2 linked regions of the Homo sapiens genome follow. The protein of the gene in region 1 purifies or fractionates together with the protein of each later gene. This does not show direct contact. Each region holds a gene or a part of one and is shown in the gene's direction. Other genes may lie near its edges.

Evidence for each region. Proteins that work in one complex are often made in the same cells at the same time.
Region 2: the proteins of WSB1 (region 1) and NUP210 purify together in Homo sapiens (affinity purification with mass spectrometry, with the first as the bait; one large-scale study listed by BioGRID). This does not show direct contact.

The regions. Positions count from the first base shown.
Region 1 is NC_000017.11:27,304,113-27,307,613, forward strand, and holds part of WSB1 (WD repeat and SOCS box-containing protein 1), read left to right. Parts: intron 1-667; coding exon 668-799; intron 800-2,669; coding exon 2,670-2,770; intron 2,771-3,501. UniProt on the Homo sapiens protein: Probable substrate-recognition component of a SCF-like ECS (Elongin-Cullin-SOCS-box protein) E3 ubiquitin ligase complex which mediates the ubiquitination and subsequent proteasomal degradation of target proteins.
Region 2 is NC_000003.12:13,413,822-13,417,322, reverse strand, and holds part of NUP210 (nuclear pore membrane glycoprotein 210 precursor), read left to right. Parts: intron 1-3,501. UniProt on the Homo sapiens protein: Nucleoporin essential for nuclear pore assembly and fusion, nuclear pore spacing, as well as structural integrity.

The DNA.
Region 1 (3,501 bases):
CTTTCTGGCATATAATATGTACTCAAAAACATAAAGGATTTTTAAAGAAGCATTAAAAGAACATGTACATTAGAACATAACAAGTGATACTAACATAGGTGATAATGAGTCAAAATTTGGGTTCTTGAAAAAAACAAGATGAACACATAGATTGTCTTAGAAAACAAAGCTCTTACATTATTAGTTAAATACATTTTTTTTCACTGGGATCATGTTTGAAAACTAAAGTTGTGGGATAACTTGTATCTTTTGAGGAGCTTAACATTCCTAGGCCAGGGAAATAACAAGCAAAGAAATAATTTGATTTTATATTTTAAAGTTCATGCCTGTAATTCCAGCACTTTGGGAGGCCAAAGCTGGGGGATCACTTGAGCCCAGGAGTTTTAGACCAGCCTGGGCAACATAGTGAGACTCCATCTCTCCAAAAAAAAAAAAAAAAAAAAAAAAAAAAAGGCCAGCCGTGGTGACTTGTAACTGTAGTTCCAACTATTTCGGAGGCTGAGGTAGGGGGATTGCTTGAACCCAGGAGGTCGAGGCTGTAGTGAGCCAAGATTACGCCATTGCACTCCAGCCTGAGTGACAGAGTGAGACCCTGTCTCAAGAAAAATAAGAACAAAACAAAAATATATTAATACTGTCTTTTTTTTCCCTTTTCTATCATATTTAGGAAAACTCCTCCTTAACTTGGTAGATCATACTGAAGTGGTCAGAGATTTAACTTTTGCTCCAGATGGAAGCTTGATCCTGGTGTCAGCTTCAAGAGACAAAACTCTCAGAGTATGGGACCTGAAAGATGATGGTATGTCTTTTTTCCAAGCTATGAACTAGGATTTGTTTCTTGATACTACTATGGAGAGGTATTGGGAACATGTGGGGCATTTGACTTTAAAAATGACATGTGATCAAAGTTCCTTTTCTCTGCCTTAACACTTAGGTTCCTTTCCTGAATAGATCAAAGAAAAACATAAATGTGACCCAGAATAGGAGCCAACAGTTATTCGAAGTAAATGATCTGATATTATTCAGAAACTAACCACATAAATCTGTATCAACTATCTGAGGACCAAATATGGATCAGGTTTGGGATTTTACAGGAACCAGTCTGTGTTTATGTCCTCTTAGGGAGGGTTATTAACTTACTGTATTGGCTGAGTGAAAATTTAGGTAGGTCTTGAAGTAACTTAGTATCTAATAAAATTTAAATTGAAACATGACCTACATACCAGAACTTATAACATGTGAATATTAGTAAACGTTAAATTGGCTAGGTTAAGAAGTGCTTTTATAAAAAGTGAAAGATTTACTGTCCAATACAATAGAAAGATACGTTGGTGTCAAGTACTCACCTTTCTCTAAAGCCTTACAAAGTTTTGGAGATGCTACCTCATTTGAGATGAGCATCTCTTCCCTTTCTCAGTCCCTAATGAAAGAGTTTATATGTTTAACTAAAACCTTAAATGTAAGGTCTGTTGGTGCTCTAACAGCCTCAAGCTGGAGGTTAACAGGCTTGCCTAGGGGTAATAAAGCTTAAATTGAATTAGTAGGAAACAAAACCCTCAGATCTGGAGATGTTCCAGCTGATAGATAGTAACCATTCCTTAATAAAGTTCTATGCTAACATTAACAAATCATGAAGGACCTTCTCTGTGTTTTATCTGCTCAGCTGTTGAGGTGCAAAGGGATGCCAACAGTTGAAATATTTTAATAATTTTTTTATTTTGCATATCGAATGATGCTTGCTTATCTCAAACTAATTTCAGCAATGTACATGTTTTAAGAACATAGTCTTAGTAAAATATAAGCTCCAAGATAGTGGGGTCCTTGCCTTATTTCCAGTTATATCCTCAGTGCCGGCATAGGGCCTGGCATGCGTAGGCACTCAGTAAGTATTTGTAAAACTAAGAGTTCAGTATACTTAAGCATAGTTGTGTGCTGTGGGTATAATACACAAGGACTTTGGAGTGAGTTGTAGGTTCTCAAAAATGAAGAATGAAAAGGCATTTTGAAGATGGTCAAGTTTCTTAACCTTGCTGTTGTGTTCCAGTTGCTTAACTTTTAAAATAAGGGGATTGGACTAAAAGAATTCTGTCTTTTTTTTTTTTTTTTTTTTTTTTTTTTGAGATGGAGTCTCGCTCTTTCGCCCAGGCTGGAGTGCAGCGGCGTGATCTCCGCTCACTGCAGCCTCTGCCTCCCAGGTTCAAGTAATTCTTGTGCCTCAGCCTCCCAAGTAGCTAGGATTACCGGCATGCGCCACCATGCCCGGCTGATTTTTTAATGTTTTTTAGTAGAGATGGGTTTCACCCTGTTGGCCAGGATTGTCTCAAATTCCTGGCCTCAAGCAGTCCACCTGCCTCAGCCTCTCAAAGTGCTGGAATTACAGACAAGAGCCACCGCGCCAGGCCCCAGACTTTTTCTTGAAGGGCTAGATGTTGAATATTTGAGGCTTGTGAACCATGCTGTCTGCTGTAGAGCACAACATAAACACATGGACAGGATTGTGTTCCAGTAAAATTTAAAACCTAAGCAGCTGGTGTATATCGGTAACCCTTGTTATAGATAAATTGCTTTCAGCTATAAATGTTTGTGATCCTTTGCTTTACTGCTGTTTTGAAATACTGCTCATTTGAAGTGGATTCTAGGGTTAATACAGATTATTTCTTTTTGTTCAGGAAACATGATGAAAGTATTGAGGGGGCATCAGAATTGGGTGTACAGCTGTGCATTCTCTCCTGACTCTTCTATGCTGTGTTCAGTCGGAGCCAGTAAAGCAGTACGTGTCAAAGTTCTTGTACATTCATTATGAATTGGATTATGATAATGTGTGCATAATCATTTTAAATCTAAGTAACCTATGAAGTCTGTGCTCGGTGTCATGAATATTTTAAATGTTTTATTTCATGATGGGGGAGAATTTGCATGAAGGAAATTAAATATAGTTATTGATTGCCAAGTGAGAAGTTGGATTGTTTTTAGAGATAATAGATAATAATGGGCATATCAGGGTTTTTTTTTTTTGTAAGTCTAGAAAAGTTTATGTGCTGTAGAAGAGATCTAGTCTATATGTTAAGACATTCCCTTGCTAATTATTTTCTTCTCTGTTGTTCTATTTTTTTGGTCCAGTTTGCTGTTTTTAAAGTTTTGAGTCCCAGCTGGTCCTGTACATTTAACTGAAAAAAAAGTAACTTAAAATAATATAAAAATAGCACTCATGTATGTCCTACAGTTATAGGTGAAATTTGATATTGTTTGTCTTACATAGCATACCTATAGACAGCTTAAGTAAAGTGACTGTTAAGAGGGTTATGCTTATTGATGAACTCTTGTAGTTGTTTACCAGCTCTGTTAGTATAGTTAAATTGATCTCAGTAGCTTCAAGTATTTATAAAATGGTTGAAGTCCAAATACATGTGATAATTACAATACACTTTGAATTAATGGAGGGTGGGAGGCTAGTTGAAATGCATTTTATTTACCCAAGGAGTATGTTAAAATGATAGTTAT
Region 2 (3,501 bases), on another chromosome or scaffold:
AACATCAAAATTGGACAGTTTTCGGGCCAGGGGAACCTTAGAGGTCACCTAGTTTAAACAGCCTGTGTTTCATATAGGAAAACCTGAGCTCCAGAAGGGGAAGTGATCTCTGGGAAGTCTTGTAGCGATGGACACTGAGTTGGAGCAGGAGCTGCTGGGACCCCTCCCTGTCCCACGCCATTAGACCTGGGGACTGGCAGCCTCTGGCTAATTTGCCAGGCTCTAATTCTCTCCAACTGCACCCAGCCAGCACTGGTTTTGTGACAAGTTCCTGATTCCTTCTAGATATTTTGCATTATTGAAAGTGTTCCATAAAGTATATTACATTTGCTCCTTTTAAAGGTATATACAAAACGACCTCATATCAAAAACTGGGAGAACAGACGAAAAAGAAATCATGCCATAATCTTCCAGCTGTAATACAATCACAGGCAGCATTTTGGTTTCTTTTCGGTCACTTATGTTTCCTCTCCTAGCTCCTTTCTTACATTGCCTTGAACCTGGTTATTTGGGCACCTCGGGAACCTCCTCCCCTGCCAACACTGGCTAGCACTGAAGCCCAAGCACTGCTCTGTTGCTTCTTCCTGAGGGCTCCGTGTCTGAGCACCTTTCTGCTGGGTTGAAGTTGCCTCCTCATTGATTCTTTCCCTGTCATGGAGTCCCAGGGTATTCTGGGTGCTCCAGCAAGGGGGCGCTGTCTTGGAGAAAGTGAGTGGCTCAGATTGGTTTCCCAGGGGTGGAGCCTGAGGCAGGATTCTGCTGCCCTAGTTTACAGAGAAAGTGCTCTGTTGGGCAGCTGGATAGGGAAGGGAGGCTGCCTGCAGGTTGTCCTGCCTTCAGGCGAAGAGACCAAGCTTTGAGCTTTTGTACCCACTGTCAGGCAGCCATTGGTTCCCCTGGGGAAGGGGATGTTGTGCGACCTCCCGGGCCTCTGGCGGAGACACTCTGTTTTGAATTACGACCTGCAGCTCCCCTGGCTGAGGTGGGGAGGGGATGTGGACCTGCCTGGTGAACAACATCCAGACACAGCATGCACAGTGACTGCCATACCAAGCTGTTCACAGACTTCTCCTTTCCTGCCCCTGACAGTCTCTCCTGGGCACCTTGGAGCCATCTAACACGTGTGCCAGGCCTGGTCCTGCACCAGGGTACACCCTCTCTTATGTGGTCTGGGGCACTTCTCAGTCACAGGTGTAAGGATTCTCAAACAGGTAGATGGGAGTCCTTTCAGGGCCAGGGAGGGCACTGGTCCCTATGCCGTGGAGCTTGGCCTTGGGGCATGCTGTACCCCAGGCAGTTCAGATGACCCCTGGGGAGTCCCTCTTTGCTGAGGGGTGACTGTGGGAGGCCAGAGGCCAGCACTACCCTTGCGTGTGGATGTCCTGGGTCCCTCTCCCTGCCCCAGCAGGGGAAGCTGCAGCAAATCCCCTCACAGGCCTTCGTGGGTGAAGTTGGGCACTAAGGGTGAGGGATGCACGCTGAGCCAAGTCAGAGTGTCATCTGGCCTAGCTGGCTTCTGCTGGGCTCAGGGACCCTGAGCCTCTGGGACGGGCACGTCAGCAGGTCACATGCTGGAAACTTGCACAGGTGAGGCAACAGGGCCTGTAAGAAGTTGCCCCATAGTCAAAATAAAAAATTCACAAAGTGGAAACAACCCAAAAGAGGGAGTTGAATTCGACGGGAGGCCCCCAGTTTGCTCTTCTGTACCTCCTTCACTTGGCCTTCCCTGAGCCCACACCTGTACTTCTGCTCTTTTCGTTGAGAGTGTTTTCCCCTGTACCACTCAATTTGTGTGCATGCTGCATCCCCACACACCTAGGCCAAATCTCTGTCTCCTTCCTTATGCCTGGCCTTAGAGTCACAGGCTTTGGTCGATTGCGTTATCATCTGGGCCTATTTGATGGCATTTCTGGCAGTTAGAAAGTGGGGTGGAGAAACCAGAGCTCCCGCAGGGCCTGGGAGAGGGCACACGGTGAAGACCCGTCCTGCCTGAGCACCAGGGGACAAGCACTGATGGACGACACATATTTCACCGAGGAGGGCTGGAGAGTCACTGAATAAGAGGTGACAAATGTCTGTGACTCTTTTTATTTTTTGAGATGGAGTCTCGCTGTGTTGCCAGGCTGGAGTGCAGTGGCACGATCTCGGCACACTGCAACCTCCACCTCCCAGGTTCAAGCTATTCTCCTGCCTCAGCCTCTCAAGTAGCTGGGACTACAGGCACATACCCAGCTAATTTTTGTATTTTTAGTAGAGACAGGGTTTCACCATGTTGGCCAGGATGGTCTAGATCTCTTGACCTTGTGATCTACCCGCCTCAGCCTCCCAAAGTGCTGGGATTACAGGCATGAGCCACCACACCCACCTGTCTGTGACTCTTACTATGAGCCAGGCACTACTTGAGGTCCTGGGATGTGACAGTGAAGCAGCAGGAGATGCCCTGCTCTCAGGGACTCACAGTTGATTGCCGGAGTTAAACGGTTAATTAAGATGAGATCTGTGGATGCATGTGAGGCAGGAGTAAGTCCTGAAGGAAACAGAACTGCAAGGCATGGAATGTGTTTTGGGGAGGGCGCTCAGCATAAGCCTCCTGGGAGTCGAACTAGGAGTGGAGTGGGGTTGAGTTGGAGGGGACAGCAAGTGCAAAGGGCCGGAGGAGAGATAGAGCTTGTCAGAAGTGCGCAAAGGCAGCACGTTTGGCCAGGGCAGCAGGGCTGGGAGGGAGGGTGGAGAGGTTGGCAGGGCGGGGCCATGTGGGACCTTGTGGGCTGTGGTTAGGAGACAGGAAGGAGAATGCCAGGTCAGATGTGGGCAGGGTTAGACTGGGCCTGGTTTTTGGGCCTCGTTCTCCCTGGCCCCTGAGGGCTGTCTGTAGCTGTGGCCCCTGCAGGGCTGGACCGGGCCTTGCTCAACTCCCTTCACCAGGCCCGCAGCAGGGAAGTGCCAGGAAGTGTCTGTGGACCTGGGTTGACTTGGGCCTTGGGTGATTTTCTTCCTGCTTCCTTTGTGGGTCCCCCACTCTGCCTGAGCTCTGTCAGCCCCACGAGGTGGCTTCCGCTCTGTAGACACTGCCTTTGGGCACCGTTAGGGGCTGGACCCCGCGGGTGGATGGGAGGTGGCGTGTGTCATCCACCACCCTCACCCATCCTTGTTCTTTGTGCAACTCTCACTTCTCTTTTCTTTTCACTGTTGCTTTCTGGCCTGACCCAGGTCCCTGAGTTCCCCTATGGCCTGCCTGCCTCCTGTTCCTGTGTTGTGAAGAGTGGGGAGCACCCCCTCAAAAGCAGTGCCTGCCAGACGCCAGCACATTCTGTGTGCCAGTGGGGCCTCATGCGACAGTGGGAATGAGAAAAATTCACTCTTTCAAAACTCACTGTCAGTCCTTTAATTTTCCTCAAAATAAAAGTTTTCTTCTGGTGTCTGTATGTGGTTTACATATTTTTTTATTTTAAATTGTGGTAAAATATATATAACATATAATCGACCTCCTTAACCATTTTT